Linked DNA regions of Homo sapiens. The protein of the gene in region 4 purifies or fractionates together with the protein of the main gene of each other region. This does not show direct contact. Each region holds a gene or a part of one and is shown on either strand. Other genes may lie near its edges. The genes, in order: CCDC86, LANCL1, CTDSPL2 and FGD4.

The links.
Region 1: the proteins of FGD4 (region 4) and CCDC86 purify together in Homo sapiens (affinity purification with mass spectrometry, with the first as the bait; one large-scale study listed by BioGRID). This does not show direct contact.
Region 2: the proteins of FGD4 (region 4) and LANCL1 purify together in Homo sapiens (affinity purification with mass spectrometry; one large-scale study listed by BioGRID and IntAct). This does not show direct contact.
Region 3: the proteins of FGD4 (region 4) and CTDSPL2 purify together in Homo sapiens (affinity purification with mass spectrometry, with the first as the bait; one large-scale study listed by BioGRID). This does not show direct contact.

Annotation. Positions count from the first base shown.
Region 1 is NC_000011.10:60,845,691-60,851,581, forward strand, and holds the end of CCDC86 (coiled-coil domain-containing protein 86), read left to right. Parts: intron 1-2,233; coding exon 2,234-2,363; intron 2,364-4,249; coding exon 4,250-4,324; intron 4,325-4,515; coding exon 4,516-4,635; 3' UTR 4,636-5,391; downstream 5,392-5,891.
Region 2 is NC_000002.12:210,431,760-210,437,915, reverse strand, and holds part of LANCL1 (glutathione S-transferase LANCL1), read left to right. Parts: intron 1-43; coding exon 44-226; intron 227-1,523; coding exon 1,524-1,700; intron 1,701-2,456; coding exon 2,457-2,529; intron 2,530-3,352; coding exon 3,353-3,429; 3' UTR 3,430-6,156. UniProt on the Homo sapiens protein: Functions as a glutathione transferase. Catalyzes conjugation of the glutathione (GSH) to artificial substrates 1-chloro-2,4-dinitrobenzene (CDNB) and p-nitrophenyl acetate.
Region 3 is NC_000015.10:44,484,961-44,491,116, forward strand, and holds part of CTDSPL2 (CTD small phosphatase-like protein 2), read left to right. Parts: intron 1-1,590; coding exon 1,591-1,740; intron 1,741-5,823; coding exon 5,824-6,039; intron 6,040-6,156. UniProt on the Homo sapiens protein: Probable phosphatase.
Region 4 is NC_000012.12:32,634,402-32,640,557, forward strand, and holds part of FGD4 (FYVE, RhoGEF and PH domain-containing protein 4), read left to right. Parts: intron 1-4,253; coding exon 4,254-4,394; coding exon of another isoform or gene 4,395-4,511; exon of another isoform or gene 4,512-4,532; intron 4,533-5,874; coding exon 5,875-6,132; 3' UTR 6,133-6,156. UniProt on the Homo sapiens protein: Activates CDC42, a member of the Ras-like family of Rho- and Rac proteins, by exchanging bound GDP for free GTP. Plays a role in regulating the actin cytoskeleton and cell shape. Activates MAPK8.

The DNA.
Region 1 (5,891 bases), on a different chromosome or scaffold from region 4:
GCTGTCTGCCTTCTCTGAGGAGTAGCATTTATGGAGCACCTATTACGTGTGTGTGTCGATTAAATCTCCCACCACCCTTTGGGTTAGGAATGATTCTCATCTCCACTGGACAGGATGCTGAGACTTAGAGAGGCTACCTTGCTCCAGGTCACCCAGGTTGGACTTGGAACCCAGGCCTGAGTTTCCTCAATACCCAGGTAGAACCAATGGTCTGGAACTGCCCTGCCTCAGTACCTTAGCCGCCAGCCACATGTGGCTATGTACATTTAAATTAATTAAAATTAAATAAAATTTAAGATTCAGTTTCTCTATCAACACCAACCACATTTCTAGCGCTCAGCAGCCACCCATGACTAGTGGCTACCTTATTGGACAGTGTCAATGTGGAATGTTTCCACCATCACAGAACGTTCTGTTTGACAGCCCTGCTCTACACAGATGCAGCACTGTGTCTTGTGGTTCTGTGTGTCTCTAGGCTCCCAACACCTTGTCCCTTCAGGGTTCTCGTACCCCAGCTTGGGAAGCCCAGCTTTACAGTTATGGGGGAAGTCCATGTGGCACCCCATTCTTAGTGCTTAGGAGGCCAGGCCTTCAGTGGCAAGGCCTTGGGAAGGGGAGAAGGAAATCAGGGAGCTGGGGCCAGAAGTCGGCAGGGCCAAGGGACACCAAAATGGGCCTTGAATCTTTAAAAGAGAAAGACCTAATTTCAGCATGTGGAGGCCACCGAGAGACTTCTTTGCATTTTGTTTTTACTTTTTTTGAATGGAAATTTTCAAGCATACAAAGAAAGAGCAAAGCTCTCAAGTCCCCATTATCAGCATCAACACAGCTCAGCATTTTACTAGTGTAGCTTCATCTTTGATACTTGGCTTTTTTTTCTTTTTTTCTTTTTTTTTGTTTTGAGACGGAGTTTCATTCTTGTTGCCCAGGCCAGAGTGCAATGGAGCAATCTCGGCTCACCGCAACCTCCGCCTCCTGGGTTCAAGCGATTCTCCTGCCTCAGCCTCCCAAGTAGCTGGGATTACAGGTGTGTGCCACCACACCCAGCTAATTTTGTATTTTTAGTAGAGACAGGGTTTCTCCATGTTGGTCAAGCTGGTCTCGAACTCCCGACCTTAGGTGATCGGCCCACCTCAGCCTCCCAAAGTGCTGGGATTACAGGCGTGAGCCACTGCGCCCGGCTGATCTTTGGCATTTTTTTTTCCCTGAAATATTTTAAAGTACATCCTAGACATATCATCCCATTCATAAATCCTTGTAGTATGCATTTTTACAGAGATGAGCTCAGTTCTCCTGTAACTCTAAAATCATCGTTGCTCTTTTCAGATTTCCCTGAGAGCCCTGATGCCCACTTCATCTCCAACTGGGGGAAGAGATTCTTTTTCTTTTTTCTTTTTTCTTTTTTTTTTTTGAGACAGAGTCTTGCTCTGTCACCCAGGCTGGAGTGCAGTGGCGCGATCTCGGCTCACTGCAACCTCCACCTCCCAGGTTCAAGCAATTGTTGTACCTCAGCCTCCCAAGTAGCTGGGACTATAGGCATACACCATCACACCCAGCTAATTTTTGTATTTTTAGTAGAAACTTTAGTAGGTTTTAGTAGGCTTAGTAGGTTTTGCCATGTTTGCCCGGCTGGTCTCCAACTCCTGGACTCACGTGGTCTGCCCACCTTGGCCTCCCAAAGTGCTGGGATTACAAGCATGACCACTGCATCCGGTCTTGGCGGGGAAGATCCTGAATCATTACCCAGAACTTTAACCACTCACACTGTTCTGAAATGGAATGGGCCACCTCCCTAGGGGGTGAGCGCCCCGCCTCCAGAGGCATTCACACCCGGGCCAAATGCACTTGGCGGAAGCAACAGAACTTTACAGCAGGGGCCGCGTAGCCTGGACTCTGCAGTCGCTGACAGGATTCAAGTCCTGACTGCCACAAGGTATCTTTAGGCAGCTATTTAACCTCTCCGCGCCTTGGCCTGCTCCTCTGTAAGTGGAGAGGATAGGAGTACCCACCTCAGAGGCATGTAGCCAAGGCTTGAGAAATGGCAGCCAGCACGATCAGGGTTCCCTCCCGCCCCAAGTTTCTGCAGCCCTGGAAGGCCGCCTGTCAGGCCAGCAAGGAGGTGGTTCTGCCTGGGCTCTGGGGAAGAAGGTCCAGAGCCTCCGGCCGAGAGGAGACAGGGCATGGGTGGCGCTTGCCCCACAGACCCTGTATGCACCCACTCTCCCCCTTTCAGATTCTCCCAGATGCTTCAGGACAAGCCCCTGCGCACATCGTGGCAGCGGAAGATGAAGGAACGACAGGAGAGGAAGCTGGCCAAGGACTTTGCCCGTCACCTGGAGGAGGAGAAGGAGAGGCGCCGCCAGGTGAGGGGCCAGCCAGGCTGAGGCTGGGGCTCAGAGGACTAAGCTAGTGTCTACTGGTACAGACCTGAGGCGAGGGCCTCCACGGGTGCCTGGGGGAGGCCGACTTGGTTAAAAAACGTTCTTGAATCTGAAGGCCGGAGGGAGGAAGGGCACCTGGCCAGAAGCAGAAGTGCAATCTGGGACTACAGGGCAGGGAGGCCCAGGGGACCATACAGTTTAGCCTGGGCTGCTGAAAGAGCCTCAGGGACAGGGACGGAGGGGGAGGACCAGAAGCGGGCCTTGGGGAGAAGCCCGGGAGGAAGTCCTGGGTGGTAGGGCAGTCAGTGAGATGGGGTCGAGGGCCCTTTGCTGGGACGTACTCAGTTGGGAAGGGCTTGCAGATTTGAACTCCATGTCCCCGGTATGGCTGCTGTCATTCTCCAAGAAGCAGCCCACACACCAGCAACGTGGATGGCCCCCGCACCTTTCCTCCACTTCTGTCCCCTGTCACCCATCCCAGAGCCAGGAAGCCCCTGTAAAGGGTCACAGCCTCACCCACATCTGCCAGGGACTTTTAAGCGGGGGGAAGAGGGCACTCAGCAGGCAGCATGCAGAGAAAGCGGAGTGGCATTGGTCAGCTCCTGCCCCCCAGGGCAGGGCAGTCAGTGGGAGATTCCTCCTCCACTCCTCTAATGACCCAGGCGTGTAGGAGGAGTGCCGAACGGGATTCAGACAACTCATCCATAGTCCGTGGTCCCAGGCTGGCCACTGAGAAAAGGGGTGGGCCAGTCACTCAGTCATCTGTCCCCTGCTCTAAGTCACCCCAGCTCAGCTTACAGCTGACATCTGAGGAACAGTGTGTCCGCCACCATATGCTGAGGCCTTATCTCTTTTCCTGTGTGGCCCTGGCTCCCTCTTGGGCAAGACAGAGCTGCCGTCTCACTTCTCACCGTCCACTGCGGAGGTGCTCCTGCCCAGCCCCCAGCCCGGGCCTGCCCTGACCACAGGAGGCCAAGGCTCACTTCTCCTTCCTCCCCAGGGGCCTGGGCCACCCCTGCTACCCCAAGTCACCAAAGCCAGCAGAGACTCCTAACCATGCAGCAGCCTTGGAGCTGACGTCCCCACCCTGGCCTTGCTGAGGGACACAGTCAGCATGGCTAGAGAGCACTGGGCTTCCCCTCCCAAGACAGACTCCATCTAGAGTCTCAGTGTGCCCAAGGAGCTAGGGGCTGCTCCAAGTCCTGCACGTGCATTCCCTCATTGATTTCCCAAAACTATCTTACGAGGTAGATACTGTGGTCACTGTCACTTTAAAGATGAAGAAGCTGAGGCACAGACTTAGCTAAGGTCTCCTGTTTAGGAAATAACAGGATCCAGATTGAAACCCAGCCCAGATAGCTCCAGAGCCTTTTCTGTGCAGTGCAGCCCCTGCCCAGCCCCACACCTGTGAAAATCTCAGGGACCCAGCCCTCACCCCTAGCCTGGCATTCTGCAGCAGCAGGACTCCAGGGGAAGAGGGGGAGACTGTCGGAGAGGGTGGGAATGGGGGAAGGGCCAGCACCCCTTTCTCCCTTGGCAGTTGATGAGGGTGGCATGAGGGGTCACTGTCTGCATGTGCGTGAATCTCCAGGTGGGCACCCCCAGTGTCTCAGCCCCTGTCCTCAGTTGCCTGTCCCATACCCACCTCTCAACATGCTATCAGGAGCTTCCACCACAGCAGGCCCCTGGCACTAGACCGTGGCACAGGATTGCTAGCCCTCCACCCACACATCACCAACCTGGAGCCTGGCAGAGAGGGCCTTTCCCCTTCCTCCTGGGAATTCTGCCCGCTCGCACTCTTCTGGGGCCTGAGAGACCAGGGCTGCCTCTGCTCCCCGACTCAAATCCCCTTCTCCCACATGTTCCAGGAGAAGAAACAGCGCCGGGCTGAGAACCTGAAACGCCGCCTGGAGAATGAGCGGAAGGCAGAGGTCGTCCAAGTGGTGAGTGTCTCGTTTTCCCCCTCTGCCCTTCTGCCCCACTTGGGGGTGCAAACCAGGGCCTCGACCCCTGCCTCATGTACCCCCACTCTCATGCTACGATCTCAGGCCCCTGTGGGGCGGCCTTCCTCTCCCCTGGGAATTTGGACCGAGGCTGCAGCTGCACTAATGTCCTCCCCTCATACCACCCCCAGATCCGAAACCCCGCCAAGCTCAAGCGGGCAAAGAAGAAGCAGCTGCGCTCCATTGAGAAGCGGGACACCCTGGCCCTGCTGCAGAAGCAGCCGCCCCAGCAGCCGGCAGCCAAGATCTGAGCTCAGGACGGCCCGAGGCCTTCCATGGCCAACAACCATGTCAGACACAGCACCTCAGGCCGCTGCTCAGATGCCTCTGCTGGAGCTGGCACTCCAAACCCATGGCTCCAGAACAGGGACCCCCACCCCGACCGGGGCTCCTCGGCCTTTGAAGGCTTCCAGGCAGGTCTGTGTGGGACAGAAGCCCAGAGGGGGCCTGGGACCTGGCAGAGATGGGGGCGGGAAGAGATTCAGCTCCCATCCCTCCTTCCTCTCCTTCTCCAAGTGCCTTCAAACCAAGAACTGTACATTCTTCTGGTTCCTCAGTGAGCTGGTGACTGGCAGGTGACTCCCTCAGCAGTGTATGCCCTTTCTCAGCATCCTAGGTCCATCCCAGGCCTGGAGGCTGACAGTTGGGAATCCAGCTTCCCCCACACCTTCCCAAAGGCTGCTCTGAGCACCTCCACACCCCACTGCCTCTGTCCCCAGCAGACTGAATCCGGTTCCTCTCCACTTTTCAATACTGAAAGATTAAAATGGGGAGGTTGCAGGGAGCAGAGCTTTTCCCTAGCACCCACTTTCCCAAACCAGTCTCTGCAGAAGCCCCAGAGAATCTAACTCATGCCTGTCCAGTCTACAGCAAAAATATTTATTGAGTGCCTGTTGCATACAGGCACAATCCTAGGCACCGGCAAATACAGACAATAGACCAAAGTCCCTGCCCTCGAGGAGCTTTCATTCTGATGGAGAGAAAACATAATAAACAAGCAAAATGCACCACGTGTCCAATGGGGGAAGTGCTATGAGTAAAGGGGGAAGGGATGGGAGGGAGCAGGGGCGAGGTGTCAACACAGGGTGGCTCTGCAGCTAGCTGGGCACCTCACTGTTCCCTTTGCTCAGCACCTGCTGTGGGCCAGGCCTTCAGTGACCCTGGCCTTTGGTGGCAGAAAAAACACAGGACCAAGATCTCAAGAGTTTCTCATCTGCTTCTTCCACTGACATTTCATCCACCAAGCAAAATTCATTGACACCAACTTTTCGGTCCCTGGGCTGCAGAGCTCAAACACAGCAGTCTCTGACCCCAAGTCCACGGCAGGTGGAGGAATGAGACGGGGTGCAGTGGAAGTGATAGGTCAGAGGTGCAAGTTACCCCTCCCATCCGCAAAAGGGAAATGGTAGCTGCCCAGCCCCATGTGGCCTGGAGGCGGGGCTGCACAGATCTTGGGATTACCAGTGCCCAGAGGGATCCCACAGAACACCAGGCCGACAGGGAGGCT
Region 2 (6,156 bases), on a different chromosome or scaffold from region 4:
TTATTTGCTTCAGCAGAACTAATAATTTCCTTCTCATTTTTAGCCCAGCCTTCAAGTGAGCCAAGGGAAGTTACATAGTTTGGTCAAGCCCAGTGTAGACTACGTCTGCCAGCTGAAATTCCCTTCTGGCAATTACCCTCCATGTATAGGTGATAATCGAGATCTGCTTGTCCATTGGTGCCATGGCGCCCCTGGGGTAATCTACATGCTCATCCAGGCCTATAAGGTACTGTGTGTATTTTTGAAATAAATTTTTTTAAATAACCAAAAATTTATAATTTAAAATTAGTTTTATCCTAATCCATAAAGGAACAATAAATAAATCTCTTGTGGGACCTAAGATCACTTTACTAAATGAATTATAATTCATTCTCACCATCTATCTGTACCATAGCAGCCATTGTTTCATATCCTACTTTTAACAACACTTAGGTTGCAATGAGATATTGTTTATGATCCAGCATATTATCTAGCAATTCCACTCCTAGGTGTGTACTCGAAAGAACCAAAACCAAGCATTCATAACGGCATTATTTATAATTGCCACAGGTGAAAATAATCCAAGTATTCATCAACAGATGAATTGATAAAATGTCATATATACAATGGAACATATCACAATGCAATGGATTATTATTCTGCTATTAAAAGAATGACTTTCTGATACATATTACAACATGGATGAACCTTGAAAACATGCTAAGTGAAATAAATAGATATAAAAGGACAAATATTGTATGATTCCATTGTAGTGCATAAATAACACTAATAGAAAGCATGCCTTCACAGAACTGCAATCAACGCAGATTTTTAGTTGAGAAAAAAAAAGATATCTATGACCATTGGTGCCAAATCAACAAATTACAACTCTGCAGACTATCGCTGGGCGCTGGCATCTCATAAATAAGCTTTTAGTGTATCATATTCTACATTTCAGAGAATTAGATATGTTAATAATAGAAAAACTTTTTAAACTGCCTTATCCTACTTTTAAGAACACTTAGGTTGCAATGAGATATTAAAAATATCTACTCAGAATATTTCCTAAGTCTTTGATGAAGATATAGGAGGCAGTAAAAGATTGTAAAGGTCTATCTCTATTTTTCTGACTGCATATTTAATAAAGAACAGTTGTTCTTCTCCAGTGTGTAAAGAAACTTCCTAATAGTGAAGAGGGCATCAGAGTTACAAAGAAGATAGCATGTGTTCTTTGGAAAGTCACTCATGATAAGAGCAAGTTGCAAGTTAAATAATGCTGCTTCCTCAGTAACACCCACATAAACATACACACATGTGCAGAAAACTTAGACTGTACATGCCAAAGTCATGCACAGTTTTTTTTAAAGCCAAACTAGTCGATTTTAGTAATTGTCACTAGCAACATAACACATCCCTCTGTCACTAAATCCTTTACCCTTTCTTGCCAAGCCATCTCCCTCTTTCCTTCTTATCTATCAGGAAGGAATATCAATGGAACTTTCTTTTATATCCCGTATAATAAAATGTGTCCTTTGCCTCTGCAGGTATTCAGAGAGGAAAAGTATCTCTGTGATGCCTATCAGTGTGCTGATGTGATCTGGCAATATGGGTTGCTGAAGAAGGGATATGGGCTGTGCCACGGTTCTGCAGGGAATGCCTATGCCTTCCTGACACTCTACAACCTCACACAGGACATGAAGTACCTGTATAGGGCCTGTAAGGTAGGAGTCAGAACCACCAAATAGAAAGCAGCTCGGTGGCTCACACCTGTAAATCTCAGCACTTTGGGAGGCTGAGGCAGGCGGATCACCTGAGGTCAGGAGTTCGAGACCAGCCTGGCTAACATGGTCTACTAAAATGACAAAAAATTAGCCAGGTGTGGTGGCAGGCGCCTATAATCCCAGCTACTTTGGAGGCTGAGGCACAAGAATCACTTGAACCCGGGAGGCAGAGGTTGCAGTGAGCCAAGATCACACCATTGTACTCCAGCCTGGGTGACAAGAGTGAAACTCCATCTCAAAAAAAAAAAAAAAAAAAAAAAAAGCAGGTCTCCCAGGAGGTTGTAGAAAGAGTTCTAGTTCATCTGATTTAATTCATTTATCCCTAAAACCATAGGTCTTGGATAACAAATACAGTTATTTAAGGAAAACCTTGAAAAGCCTTTCAATTAAATTAGCATTCCTTTAAAGGGACATAATTCTACTCAACAGCATTAATGGGAGAAAAAAATAAAGATGTAGGGTGATTTTGTGCCTTTCTTCTTGAATAACCTTGTAGATACGTGACTCAGACAGCTCATTAAATTCCTCCCATGCTGTGTACTCTTTCAAACCATCCTTTTCTCTGCATTAATCTCCTTTCTCTGATGTGAAGGTAGTGTTTGATTTTTCAGAGTAATTTGTATAGACAACCTCTTAACTTTTGGGGTTGTCTCTGGAAGAAATCACTATACTAATTTAACTTGGTCTCATTTTCAGTTTGCTGAATGGTGCTTAGAGTATGGAGAACATGGATGCAGAACACCAGACACCCCTTTCTCTCTCTTTGAAGGTATTTTGTACACTTTATTTATTTGCCCTATAATATCAGCATCTACTTCTCTGCTTGGTAATTAATGTATTTAAGTTTTAGCAAAAAATTTTATAATTATTCTTAAACTACTTTTTTATTTCCTAATATGCTAAATCGATATTAAAAATCAATTAGCACATGTAATACCACAGTCCCAATACTGGTAGTCATCAGGTGACTCCCTTTTATGGAGCCAGGCACATGTTGGGCATTTTGCAGACGCCCTCATAAATCATTCAGCAAAAACATACAGGCACTACTACCTTCATGTCATAGCCGAGGAGACTGAGGCTCAGGAGCTTATGTTTGGTAAATGGCAGGGCTGTGACTTGAACTTGTCTGGCTCCATTCTTTCTCCAGTCTTCCACCGGGATATAAGGCTGAACACCTCACTAGTGATCTCTTCTAATGTTGAACTGCAGTGTATGTAAACGTAGATAGATTCACACTTCATTTAAATCATTGCCGTTAATATTGTAATGTTGTTAATGTTAAAAAATGGAGCCATCCTTCGTTTTTGCAGAGTTGTAACTGCTCTCGGGGGGTGTCAGTGAGGTGAGGAAAAAGCCATAGGATGCCGAAGGAGGAGGGCCAAGAGGACACCCCCACCCTCCAGTGCGGCCTTGATCCAGACCTTAGGGACGAGGCCATCACTGGTGGGCACCCTTTGTTGATGTTTGTGTGTTTGAATAGACTGAAATGCTGTGACTTTTTTTGTCAATAAAGATATGGGGGAAAAAGAACCATCCTATGAAATGGAGTCATTTGGTATAATAACTTTTGCCTCTTTCTCTTTCTTCAGGAATGGCTGGAACAATATATTTCCTGGCTGACCTGCTAGTCCCCACAAAAGCCAGGTTCCCTGCATTTGAACTCTGAAAGGATAGCATGCCACCTGCAACTCACTGCATGACCCTTTCTGTATATTCAAACCCAAGCTAAGTGCTTCCGTTGCTTTCCAAGGAAACAAAGAGTCAAACTGTGGACTTGATTTTGTTAGCTTTTTTCAGAATTTATCTTTCATTCAGTTCCCTTCCATTATCATTTACTTTTACTTAGAAGTATCCAAGGAAGTCTTTTAACTTTAATTTCCATTTCTTCCTAAAGGGAGAGTGAGTGATATGTACAGTGTTTTGAGATTGTATACATATATTCCAGAACTTGGAGGAAATCTTATTTAAGTTTATGAATATAACCATCTGTTACTGTTCTAAAAATGTTTAAAAGAAACTCAATACAGATAAAGATAAATATGTGACTATTATTGGGTATTACACTTCACTTCTCTTTAATATTTTTCCTCCAACTGGAGGGCAGACAATTTTCTGACTTGCTTTTCTCTAGGTGGTTCATTTTGAAAGGGGACAGAAATATAACTAAATGCTTCCAGGAGAAAAATTCCAAGAGTTACAATCTGGACTTGGTACCTAAATATCATTTTTTAAATTCTTGATGCCTATTTGGACTAGAGGTAAACATACTTTCAGATTGGCCTGTTTTTGTCGGTAAGGCATACAGCCTTCAGAAGCCAACATTTTTAATCAAAAACTTATAAAACATGATGATCATTGTGAAAATTCTGAGTTGAAGGTTAGTTTAAGATAAGCTAACAATAACAGTCTGTGTTTTCTCTAAAATAATCTGAGTTTTTTGGAACTCTTTATTTAAATATGTGTGTTTTTCAGTATTCAAATAAGATCAGGAAGCCAATTTTCTATGTATGAATATGCTTTAACCTAGGATTTCAGTCCACTCTGACTGACTTTCTAAACTTTAACTTGGGTTTTTACAGTGACTATGCATTAGTGCTGACTCTTTGGTATAAGCCATAAAATATTTTCCTTCCTATCAATTTATCTGAACTTTGGTCTTTTCACTAAATTGTACAGTATTCTACTTCTGTTTAAAAAGGGGAGATGAGAAAGGGAATACTATCTAACCAATAACTTGAACAAAAACACTAAACTAAGCATTTAATAGAAATGCTTTTTATTGAGGAGGTATTATCCAGAGTTCATGCTTAGAACAAATGCATCTTTGCGTATCCTAGACTTAACAATTCATCAGTTTCTGAGACCACAGAATCAGGTTTTCCGTAGTAGATAAAGACTCTCTGGTGCTTCAAATTCTGTTCAAGTGTTTTGACTCATCAGCTTCTACTCTTTCTATTACTGCCTTTGCCTGGCTTGTTTTGTCTCTTTGCAACTGATTTTGCAAAAAAAAATTGTAGCTTTAAAATAACAGGGTCTAAGTATTTTAAATGTGCCTATTTCACAGCTCTCTTGGTCACAAAAACATGCTATTTTTATTGGAACTTCAAACCAAATCCCCACTGAGTGTGTACTGGTTCCTGCAGGTAGCAGTCTCCTATTATCTCCTGTTTAGCACCAAAAGAGCTAATATTATTGGAAACTGACCTTTTAAAGGCCACTGGCAGTAGGATTTAAAAAGCAGCCCACTGCTCAGTTTCCAGGATCAGCTTCCTCCTTCTGTCACTTGTGTAAGTTGGCACTACCTTGTGCCTCTCAGATTGCTGAAGTGCTGCTGGTAAGCATGTGCATGCTCTGCCTTTCTTGTGAAAGTTTTCAATCAGCGATATCAGCACTTACAGTAAGAAGTAAAAGTAGTGCACAGCAAAGCTAATTTGCCTTTGCCTGGGGTGTTCAGCTTGAAAGAATAAAGCTCATTTGGTTTAGTTAAATGTCTTACTCTACTGTGCCTATGCTTTTAGCTGCGTTACTAAGCAAGGGAAAAATAACAGTTTCTCTGAGCCAGAGAAGACTTGATCACAGTTCTCCAAGCATCGTGATAGCAATGCTTAACCCCAGGAAGATTTCAAGGCAGGGAGAAGAACATTTCAAATAAGATTCTTGTTAACCCATTTATGCCTAGTGTTCCATTATTGGAATGCTAAGCTTGTGGGAGTCATTTACATCCTACTGCTCAAAGTCATTGCCAAGGTCTGATTTTTCACACAAAAAATTGCAACCCCCAGCATAAATGGGTTAGCTACTGTCATCAGTTAGCAAATTCATCCACACAAACACAATTAGAGTTTGGTTTTTTTTTAAGCTTTTCAAAACTTACTAAACTGGCACAATTTTATATGTATGCTATTTGTTGTATTTATGCTTAAGAGCAAAAAAGTTTTGATGGGATTTTAAATTCAGGCAAAGCCTACAACGCTGAGACAATCCCCTAACAACATGGTAGTAACTAAAGAAACTTTTATACTAGGCTTCTTAGTTTTAAAAGGAAGTGGCATCATTGTTTCAGTTCTAGTTTGTATTTTTCTCTCAGATATTTTTCTTCTTTAAAAATCTTTCCCAGAAGTTGGTTCCTAGAAAACTCAATACCATCATCTCTTATCTCTATACAGGGACTAGGTAATAAAACCTTCAAAGGTTGTCAAAGGTCATCAAGCAGTGTTCATTTATCCTGTCACATGTTTCTGTTTCTATAGTAATTTAGAAATTGCAAATAGTTAACTTTTCATCATGTAAAAAGTTAACATTATCCTATTTCCATAGATACCATGGACGGCGGTGTGGCCTGAGTTGTCAGTCTTTAATCCTGAGTCATGTGGCTCTCTTTTCATCTTTGATG
Region 3 (6,156 bases), on a different chromosome or scaffold from region 4:
GTGACTTAATTTAATTGAAATATATACCAAATTTCTTCCTAGATTATTCTACTTAAGAGCTCAGAGGGGACTTGCATCACTTAGTCCAGTAGGTTTCAACTAGGGGTGATTTTTTCCTCCAAGGGACATTTGTCAATATCTAGAGACCTTTTTGGTTGTCACAACTTGTGGAGGGGTGGCTACTAGTGTCTACTAGGTGGATGTCAGAGATGTTAAACATCCTACAATACACAGGACAGCTCTTCAAAACAAAGAATTAGACTGAAATGTCAATACTGCCGCTGTTGATAAACTCTGTCAATACCTTGTTGCATAGCAGAGAAACTCCTCAAAGTCAAAAAGAAGGAGAATAGCATTAAGGAAAAGCAGAGACAGCTATAAAGAATAACACTTTAGAGCAACAGTCCCCAACCTCTTGGCAGCAAGGACCAGTTTTGTGGAAGACAGTTTTTCCACTGACAGTGATGGGAATGGTTTCAGGATGAAACTGTTCCATCTCAGATCATCAGACATTAGTTAGATTCTCATAAGGATCGCACAACCTAGATCCCTTGCATGTAAAGTTCACAGTAGGGTTCGTGTTCCTAAAAGAATCTAATGCAGCAGCTTATCTGCAGATAAGGTAGTAGAGGCAGAGCTCAGGCGTTAATGCTTGTTCACCTCCTGCTCTGCGGCCCAGTTCCTAATAGGCTGCGGACTGGTACCAGTGGGTATGGGGTTAGGGACCCCTGCTTTAGAGTATGGAGTACTGTTTTAACGAATGCTATCTTAAACACAGCAGCAATTTCTCCCCTTGTCTCTGCCCAGTGCAGCAATATATCTTTATTGTTAGAAAAAACAAACCAGGAGGGAGAAAAAGACTGAGACAAGACAAGGGGGACAAAATAGAGAAAGAAACAAGTTAAAAGAACCATAGCAAAGAAGGAAATAAGTGTTGTAGACATCAAAAGTTGAGGAGAATCAAAGGATGATTAATTAGAACAGTTGATTGATTTTACTTTTATATTCTTAAAAGATCTGTGGAACATTTTGATTTACAGGAAACTTAAAATTATTTTCCCTAGCCACTCTGAGATGGCGTCTCAGTGTCCATAAGTAATTTTTGACACTGCTATATATAGCCTTTTGCTTCAGTAGAGTTATGTTGCCTCTATTCATTTCGCTGTCATTCATTAGATAGAAGCAGATGTGAGGGAAGGTTTTATGAATTAGAACCGTCCTAGAATGTAAACAAAAATAAAATTATTTGTGTTTTAGTTGGTGGGAACTAGTTTGCTTGTTTACAAAGAATTTTCTTCATTTTGTGTTATACTGTGTTGATTTGAAGCCTTTCAGTCTATAGGTGTAAATCTACTTTGAAAAAACTCAGTAAATATTAGCATTATAAACACATTGATACATAAAGAGCATTTGACTTACGAGTAATTTACCTCAATGTTTCTTTAATAAGCTTTCCTGAACATTAACATTAATTAGCTTTCGTGAAGTATTTTGAGGGAAAAAGAGTTACTTCTATAATGAATGATTTATAACACACTTCTGAAATTCAGTGTTTTCTAGATCATGACTTTTTTCTTGTTTCTTTTTTAGAAGCTGGTAGTTATGAAATGACAAATCAACATGTAAAACAAAATGGAAAATTAGAAGATAATCCTTCCTCTGGCAGTCCTCCAAGGACTACTTTGTTGGGGACCATATTTTCACCTGTCTTCAACTTTTTTTCACCAGCAAATAAAAATGGTAAGTATAAACTGTTAACTGTGATTTGGATTTTTTTTAAAAAAATGCATAGTTTGGGTTTTTTTTTTTTTTTTTTCTTGAGACGAAGTCTCTCTTTGTTGCCCAGGCTGGAGTGCAGTGACGCGATCTCCCCGCTCACTGCAGCCTCTGCCTCCCAGGTTCAAGCAATACTCCTGCCTCAGCCTTACAAGTAGGTGGGACTGTAGGTACCTGCCACCATGCCCGGCTAATATTTTTTGTATTTTTGGTTGAGACGGGGTTTCACCATGTTGACCAGGCTGGTCTCAAACTCTTGACCTTCAAGTGATCCGCCCACCTCGGATTCCCAAAGTGCTGGAATTACAGATGTGAGCAACTGTGCCCAGCAAAAAAATACATAGTTTTTAAAAAGATCTTTTTTATTTTATTAGCATATTTTGTCAATGTCTCGTGTATGTTTTCCACCTCATTAATAATATACAGCTCCTTGGGAGCTGGGTGTGGTGGCTGATGCCGGTAATCTGAACTCTTCGGGAAGCCAAGACAGGAGAATTGCTCAAGGGCAGGAGTTTGAGACTAGCCTGGGCAACATAGTGAGACCCTGTCTCTACAAAAAAATGTAAAAATTATTTGGGCGTGGTAGTGCACGCCTGTAGTCCTAGCTACTCCAGAGGCTGAGGTGGGAGGAATGCTTCAATCCAGCAGTTTGAACCCAGGAGTTTGAGGCTGCAGTGTGCTGTGATTGTACCACTGCACTCAAGCTTGGACAGCCAAGTAGGGGGTCCACGTAAAAAAAAATAAAAAGAATGGAATGGTCCTGTCTTCTGGGTGGCAGGGGTAGTGGCTCACAAAAGGCTTGAAAGAAAAGCCGAATCTGGAAAAGTGGCAAAAGCCATTCCAGGTAGAAGGAGCAGCATGCGTAGAGGCCTTGCAGCAGAAAACAGCATAGTGTATTTGAGAGCTGTTTGTAGTTTGTAATTGATGGAACATTGCATTTGAGAAGGGATAAGGTAGGAGAGCTATGAAGAAGTCATATAATAGAGCTAACATAGTAAGATGATGAACTTTATTCAAGTATGGGATAATTGAAAGTTTGTTTTGTTTTGTTTTTTTCCCCAAGGTGAAAGCAATTTTATTAAGAAAGTAAAGGAATAGGCCGGGCACCGTGGCTTATACCTGTAATCACAGCACTTTAGGAGGCCGAGGCAGGTGGATCATGAGGTCAGGAGTTCAAGACCAGCCTGACTAACATGGTGAAACCATGTCTCTACTAAAGAAAAATACAAAAGTTAGCTGGATGTGGTGGCATGTGCCTGTAATCCCAGCTACTCAAGGCAGGAGAATCACTTGAACCCAGGAGGCGGAGGCTGCAGTGAGCTGAGATCATGCCACTGCACTCCAGCCTGGGTGACAGAGCAAGACTCCGTCTCAAAAAAAAAAAAAAAAGAAAAAGGAATAAAGAATGGCTCCTCCTCCATAGGCAGAGCGGCCTGAAAGGTTTTAAACTGGTGAATAATACGATCAGATCTATGTTTTATAAAGATCACTTGGGCAGTAGTGTGTAGACTAGATTCTGAAGAGGCCATAGGCAGGTAGAACAATTAGTAGACTTGTAGTCGTTTGTGTGAGACTTGATGAGACCTTAATTGTATTAGAGAAGACAGGAAGGATCAGAGGATAGAAAATAGACACATTTTTGGTGCAGATTGGAGGTGAAAGAGAATAGAGATGAAGATGGCACAAGAGTAGAAGATTCAAGGAAAATAAAGTTCCTGGGAGATAGATAATTGAGTGTAATTTGGACCATGCTGAGTTTGAGATGCCATGAAATATTTAAATAAAAATATTCAGGCTGGGCGCGGTGGCTCAACGCCTGTAATCCGAGCACTTTGGGAGGCCGAGATGGGCGGATCACTTGAGGTCAGGAGTTCAAGACCAGCCTGACCAACATGGAGAAACCTATCTCTACTAAAAATACAAAAAAATTTAGCTGGGCATGGTGGCGCACACCCACCTGTAATCCCAGCTACTCAAGAGGCTGAGGCAGGAGAATTGCTTGAACCTGGGAGGCCGAGGTTGCAGTGAGCTGAGATCGCACCATTGCACTCCAGCCTGGGCAACAAGAGTGAAACTCCATCTCAAAAAACAAAACAAAACAAAAAAAACAAACCCCAGTAGTAATATTTTCCCCTCATGCTGAAGTAAAGAATCTCTGAAGGTGTGTATATCTCTGAAGGTGTGTACAGAAATAGATGTCTGGGGAAGAAGGAGTTGAAGTTTGATAGAGTTTTCTTGGAAGGAAGAGATGGTGTCATTAATGATAGTTCTAGTGGAAGGGACTTGGGAAGAATAGTGAAGGTTTACATTGATATTTTCTTTGTGTGTGTCTCTGTCTCTCTCTCCCCACCCCATACACACACAACCTCTCTCTCCACTCCCACATCTGTCTCTTCCCCCCTCCCCCCCACCTACCTCCTCCCCTCCCCCTGCCTTTCCCTGTCTCTGTGTCTCTGTTTTATTTGGATTATGACCAGTCTTTGTAATTGTATTTTTTGTTCCATAGCCTGCAACTAGGGTCTGAGAAGCCTGTTGGTTACGTTGATTCAAGAGGGATTTCTTGATGGATGACAGTGGAGGAATGAGGGATCAAGGATACTGAGGCTGCCAGTTTGACAGTGTATTTAAGTGATACACCACGAAGTCTAACTAGATGAGGAGGGTTGAGAAGAAGTGTTTGAGGGACGTGTTTGGAATTAAACAGACTGGCCTTTATCAAGTTTGAAGATCACATATAATGGGAGTATGAGATATATAATTTGAGGGTTAGGAGGTTGTGCTAAGTGGTTAATACAGTATTAGAATTTTAGGCTTCAGAGGTGAAGTTTCTCAGTGTTAATGTCCAGGTTATAGCTATGGTAGTAACTGATATAGAGCAGTATGAGTGAAGGTGGTTGGAGCTGAAGAGGGCAAGAACTTTGAGGATTAGTCATTGGATGAGTCATTGACATCATCTGTAATAACAACTAGAAAAAATACTGTGTTAAATAGAGCAGTAAACTAGTAGCTATGTATTAAACTTCTTTGCGATTGAGAGGATTCTGGCAGTAGATGGTAGGTGCCAGCAGTGAGGATAAGTGAAGAATTATATAGCCATGTGACATCAGTCTCAAAAGAGCAGACTTTTTTTGCACATTAGTGGAAAACCAGCGATTGGATAGTAGCAATGGAGATAAATGAATTCTGATTCAATTAGTATATTGGTATGGGAGAATAAAGAGCATTGAGGGAAGGGTATCAGAAAAACCTTTTAGGAAAGAGGTTAAACTTAAAGCAACAAGGGAGAAGGAATGTTCTGTAAGGAAGTTGAGAATATTGGAGGTTAATTTTTTTTGTTATTTTTGTTTAAAATGACATTTGGAAGATTCCAGAAGGAAATGGAAAGACCTGGGATTATTATTTTTTCTTTTTTAATTGAGACAGGGTCTTGCTCTGTCACCCAGGCTGGAGTGCAATAGTACGATCACCGTTCACTGCAGCCTTGACCTCCTTCTGGGCCCAAGCGATCCTCCCACTTCAGCCTCATGAGTAGCTGGGATCACAGATGTGCACCACCACACCCAGCTAGTTTTTATATTCTTTGTAGAGACAGCCATGTTGCCCAGGCTGGTTTTGAACTCCTGAGCTCAAGCAATCTGCTTGCCTCAGCCTCCCAAAGTGCTGGGATTACAGGCATGAGTCACCACACCTGGCCCAGTCTTTGTTATTGAGATGGAGTTTTGCTGAGAAATTATTTTTATATCTTTTAATTAAAAGGTTCTCATGATTAGGGGAACAGCTAATTTTTTGATACCTCTGGTTGAAAAATTACAATTGCACACATGACTAGGATGCAGAAACTTTGCTCACAAATGTTACTCTAGCCTGTAAGTCTTTATTCTTCATTGTTTGAAATAGCTAGCAAAGATTCTCTAAAAGCAATATACTCAGCTTTGTTCCTGCAGGAATGATCAGTCTAAATAAATATATTGTACGGTGATGCTGCATTTAGTTTTTCTAAATAGGTGCATTTTTAAATGATGATAGTACACTGAATCATGATTTCAGGAACGTCAGGATCAGATTCTCCAGGACAGGCTGTGGAAGCTGAAGAAATAGTAAAACAACTTGATATGGAACAGGTGGATGAGATCACTACCAGTACTACTACATCAACTAATGGAGCAGCTTACTCAAATCAAGCAGTTCAAGTGAGACCATCACTAAACAATGGTTTAGAAGAAGCAGAAGAAACAGTTAATCGTGATATCCCACCCCTTACAGGTGAAGAAAATTTCTTTTCTTATACATCTTCATGAGTAGTTGATAAAAAATAACAGTATTTCATATTTTTTCTTAAATGAGCACATTATATGCATAGGTTTTTCTTCCTGGAAGTTA
Region 4 (6,156 bases):
AATTGCCAGTGATGGTAATCTGATAACTACATTAAATATTATTGAAATGTCTCCCAAGTTAATTTGACTAATGTTCTGGAAAAAATTCAGACCCCCCCACCCCAAGCCTGAGAACTATAACGCAGCTTATCTGAAATGAGTTTTACATCTAGAGATATTAACAATATAAGGGACAGGTTATATAATAAGGCCTTTGTGGCAGTAGGTTCAAGGTAGCCTGGAAAGTCTATAGAAGAATAGGCTCAGGATCAAAATGCTATGTATCTAAAATCATAGACATACTTGGTTTATTAAGAATCTCTAAAGAGGCTGGGTGCAGTGGCTCATGCCTGTAATCCCAGCACTTTGGGAAGTTGAGGCAGTTGGATCACGAGGTCAAGAGATCAAGACCATCCTGGCCAAATGGTGAAACCCCATCTCAGCTAAAAATACAAAAATTAGCTGGGTGTGGTGGCACACACCTGTAGTCCGAGCTACTTGGGAGGCTGAGGCAGGAGAATCGCTTGAACCCGGGAGGCGGAGATTGCAGTGAGCCAAGATTGCGCCACTGCACTCCAGCCTGGTGACAGAGCTAGACTCTGTCTCAAAAAAAAAAGAATCTCTAAAGAATCAGTAAGTATTTATTGAGCATTTACATTGTGTAAGCGTACAAGTATACCTGTACACTTACAAGTGTACAAAGGTCACTTCTGTTCATTGATAAAGGGTTACAAACTTCAAGGTCCATTTGAGGCTAAGTGTAGCCCCACACACTAAAATCATTCTTCCAGGGTATAGATGTTACTCGTATGGCCTACCAAACTGGGGCTTTCTCAGGCAGTAAGGATGGAAAGACATGCTTCATTGGACATCAGGAACAGAGCCTCAAGACTTAATAGCGACAACTGATGAGACTGGCACAATATAATGAGTCGGGGAACTTGGTTTTAGGGTCAGCTTCAGGCCGTATCTCTGAAAAATCCCTAGCTAGTATTTTAGAGAACCTTATACTGAGGAAAAATTAATGAATTACTTATTAGGTCAACTCATATAATGAAATAAATATATAGTATGAAGTCCATACATAGGAGACAAGTATGTACATGGACACATTAACTTAAATGCATATTCGAGACTGATTTTGTACCAACTAGTATGTTATATGCCCTAGAACAGTGATCAACACACTTTCCTGTAAAGAGTCAGAGAGAAAATATTTTAGTCTTTGCAGACCAAGAGGCCAAACCAAGGATATTACATACATATTTGTAAAAAGAGAGAAAACAAATTTCCACAATTTTTTTTTACAAAATTAAAATTATATTTATTTAGGCTTTTTAATAATATGGATCAGCTGGGCGCAGTGGCTCATGCCTGTAATCCCAGCACTTTGGGAGGCTGAGGCGGGCGGATCACAAGGTCAGGAGTTCGAGACCAGCCTGGTCAACATGGTGAAACCCCGTCTTTACTAAAAGTACAAAAATTAGCCCGCGTAGTGGTGTGCCCCTGTAATCCCAGCTACTCGGGAGGCTGAGGCAGGAGAATCACTTGAACCTGGGAGATGGAGGTTGCAGTGAGCTGAGATCGTGCCATTGTACTCCAGCCTGGGTGACAGGGCGAGACTCTGTCTCTAATAATAATAATAATAATAATAATAATAATAAGGATCTACTAATAAGAATGGAATTCTTTGGGGGAGGATAACCATTCACTTAATTGGAATCTGAAGTTAGCGTTCCCTATCATCAAATTAATTGTAAGTGGTCGCGTAAAAAAACACCCTGGCTCATGGGCCATACAAAAACAACTGGTAGGCTGGATTTGGCTTGTGAGTTATCGTCTGCTAACCAGTGCTGCTTTAAAAATTGTCTGTGGCCAGGTGCGGTGTGGCTCACGCCTATAATCCTAGCACCAAGGCTGAGGTGGGTGGATCACCCGAGGACAGGAGTTCGAGACCAGCCTGACGAACATGGTGAAACCCCATTCTACTAAAAATACAAAAATTAGCCGGGCCTGGTGGCGTGTGCCTGTAATCCCAGCTACTTGGGAGGCTGAGGCAGGATAATCGCTTGAACCTGGGCGGCGGAGGTGTCAGTGAGCCAAGATTGAACCATTGCACTCCAGCCTGGGCAACAAGAGCTAAACTCCGTCTCAAAAAAAAAAAAAAATTGTCTATGCTGAAGCATCAGTTTTTTTTTCCTGAACTATCACAGATCAGTGTTTTTGTAAAATACACTGTAATGCACTTGGTTATCATCACAAATTCAAATTGTTATAAAAGTTTAATACTTACTCCTACTTTGTGTGCTTACCAGAAACTGGTAACATAAACCATTTGCAGACCTGGAGACCAACATGAATAACACTGAGTAGCACTACCTGAAGGGTTTTGGAGACAGAAAATAGAAGCAAACCAGTTAGTTTCCATAAGGCATATAATAAAAACTACCATTTAGTTAAATGGTTTTGTTCCTTTTTTCAGTATTTTTTTTCTTTTTTTTTTTTTTTTAGACAGAGTCTTGCTCTGTCACCCAGGCTGGAGTGCAGTGGTGCGATCTCAGCTCACTGCAATCTCTGCCTCCCCGGTCCAAGCAATTCTTATGTCTCAGCCTCCTGAGTAGCTGGGATTACAAGCATGTGCCACCACACCTGGCTAATTTTTTTCTTCTTTTTTTTTTTTTTTTTTTTAGTAGAGGCAGGGTTTCACTGTGTTGGCCAGGCTTGTCTCAAACTCCTGGCCTCAAGTGATCTACCTGCCTCTGCCTCCCAAAGTGCGGGGATTACACGTGTGAGCCACCGCACCCAGCCTTTTAGCCAACAATTTTTATATTAGGAGGCAAAATAGAAAAATTAAATGGCTCTATGTATTAGTCTGTACTCACACTGCTATAAAGACATACCCAAGACTGGGTTATTTATAAATAAAGGAGGCTTGGCCGGGCATGGTGGCTCACGCCTGTAATCCCAGCACTTTGGGAGGCCAAGGCAGGCAGATCACGAGGTCAGGAGATCGAGACCATCCTGGCTAACACAGTTAAACCCCATCTCTACTAAAAGTACAAAAAATTAGCCAAGCGTGGTGGTGAGTGCCTGTAGTCCCAGTTACTCAGGAGGCTGAGGCAGGAGAATGGTGAGAACCTGGGAGGTGGAGCTTGCAGTGAGCTGAGATCGTGCCATTGCACTCCAGCCTGGGTGACAGAGCAAGACTCCATCTCTATGAATAAATAAATAAATAAATAAATAATAAATAAGGCTTAATTGACTCACAGTTCCGCATGGCTGGGGAGGCCTCAGAAAACGTACAATCATGGCAGAAGGGGAAGAGGCACATCTTACATGGTGGCAAGCGAGAGTGAGCAAGTGTATGAAGGAAGAACTGTCAGACACTTACAAAACCATCAGATCTCATGAGAACTCACGATCACGAGAACAGCATGGGGGACACTGCCCCCATGATCCAGTTACCTCCTATCAGGTCTCTCCCTCGACACATGGGGATCGTGGGGATTACAATTGAAGATGAGATTTGGGTGGGGACACAAGGCCTAACCATATCACTCTACAAAAATTGATTGCACTGAAAAAATCTTTAATTAGGTGTACTCAAACAAAGATTGCTGGTTACTATTTGCCTTTTTGCTTTTATATTCTTTCTTAATTGAAGTAGGTATCGCATTGTCGTTAAAAGTTCAGGCTCTGTTCTGGGCACAGTGACTCACCCCTGTAATCCCAGCACTTTGGGAGGCCAAGGTGGGAGGATTGCTTGAGGCCAGGAGTTCAAGACCAGTGTGGGCAATGTAGTGAGACCCTGTTTCTACAAAAAATTTAAAAATTCTCTCCCAGCTACTTGAGAGGCTGAGGCAGAGGATCGAAGTTCAGACTCTGGATTCAGACTCTCTGGGTTCAAATCCCAGCATGCCAATGTGTGATCTTGGGAAAGCTATTTAAACTCTGAGCCTCAGAAAAAATGAAAATACTACCTTCTCAGTGTTGGTGTGAGGATTAAATGAAATAAGACATGTATTGAGCTAAGGAAAGTGCCTACATAGTAAGCAATCAATAAACACTTAACTCTTTAAATTCAAGGTCTAGTTACGTAAAGAGCTAAAATTGGCTTAAATATTTTCCATGTTAAAATGTTTAAACAATAATTGCAAATGAATCTTTTTTGGATAGTCCAGGGAAACATTTTGTATAAACACATTGTACTTTGTGAATATTTCTCTATCTGATTTGTTGTGTGTTCATTCTGTCTTTCCATTATATTTTTCTAGATTGAATCAGCAGAAGTATCTGGAAACAGTGTGGTGTGCAGCTTTCTTCAGTATATGGAGAAGTCAAAACCTTGGCAGAAAGCTTGGTGTGTGATCCCCAAGCAAGACCCTCTTGTGCTGTACATGTATGGTGCCCCCCAGGTATCTAAACCACATCTGTCTGAAGGGACAGATGCCCTTGGGGGCAAGGGGAAGCGAGTGGACAGCGGACTCAAAATCTGTAGAACAAGAGTTCAGGCAGTTTCACTGTTTCATTAAAATTGAAAAATAATGAGTAAAGTTCAAGTTTGTTGTTTAAGCTGATTGATTCATTTTATAGCCTATATTTTCTTCAGTTTGTGGATCATCTGTCCCCTTTCTTGTCTCATTCAATGGGTTTGAGAAAAGATGAGTTGAATTAGGAATGAGCATGAGGAGAAGGGGAAGCAAACGGGAGAAACAAGCCTTTTTAATGATAGGAAACATTAAGAAAAGACTTTTTAATTTTGTTTTTTGTTTGTTTGTTTGTTGTGTTGTTGTTTTCTTTGTGACAGAGTTTTGCTCATGTCACCCAGGCTATAGTGCAATGGTGCAATCTTGGCTCACTGCAACCTCCACCTCCTGGGTTCAAGTGATTCATCTGCCTCAGCCTCCCGAGTAGCTGGGATTACATGTACCCACCACCACACCTGGCTAATTTTTATATTTTTAGTAGAGACAGGGTTTCACCATGTTGATCAGGCTGGTCTTGAACTCCTGACCTCAGGTGATCCGCCCACCTCGGCCTCCCAAAGTGCTGGTAATACAGGCGTGAGCCACTGCGCCCAGCCAATTTTGTTTTTTATTTTATTTTTTCTTTTTGCTCAATGGATAGATATCTGAAAAAGGAGTTTGAGAGGAAGGGGAACTTAAAATCAGTCTTGCATTATCATTCAGTAGCAATTTTTTTGAGAACCCCACGTATATGGATCTGAGATAAATCTATGGGAACAATGATATGCAGGTTTAGCTTTTAACAAGAGCAGCACCAGGTCCTATGATTGTGTTGTGCTTGAAGAATCAAATGTACAACACTTAAACCAGTTATGCATTTACTCTGAAATATAAAAATTTTACATATACCTGTTGTATTTCAGTCTATAAATTAAGGGCTGGTAAAATTATTTTATTTTGAAAATAGACTGAAAATGACAGGCTATATAGTTTACTCTCCTTTATTGCTTTTCCTATAAGCTTTCTATGTCCATAAATAAGTTGATGGAATAAGTGAATCACCAGATAAAACTGCCTTTAGTAATGAGATTCTCATTACTGTTTGCTGGTTTAATACAGTATGATGGCGATTTTTCTTCCCCTTTTCACTGAATGAAGAGTTGAAAGGCTCTTTTCACAGAGAGGAGGGTGTAGTGTCTCTGAGTCCTAGCTGATTTGGGTGTCAGCTCTCATTCATTCAGCTAACATTATCAGTGGCCTCACGTACAGGCTCTGTACTAAGCAATGGGATTGCCCTCTGTGCCCATGGAGAACTCACCGTTTAAGTCTGTTTGGGACAGTGGTAGGAAGAGAGGTTTAGTAGGAGCAAGGGACACACTTAACAAGCGAATACATCACCTGCTTTTAATGTCTGATGTCTTTTCTTTAGGACGTCAGAGCCCAGGCCACCATTCCACTTCTGGGCTATGTGGTGGATGAAATGCCAAGGAGCGCAGACCTGCCACACAGTTTCAAACTGACCCAGTCTAAGTCCGTGCACAGCTTTGCTGCAGACAGTGAGGAACTGAAGCAGAAGTGGCTGAAAGTCATCCTTTTAGCTGTCACAGGTGAGACACCAGGTGGTCCAAATGAGCATCCAGCCACCTTGGATGATCATCCTGAACCTAAGAAAAAATCAGAATGCTGAACTCCTCCAGGACCAGCCATGGTG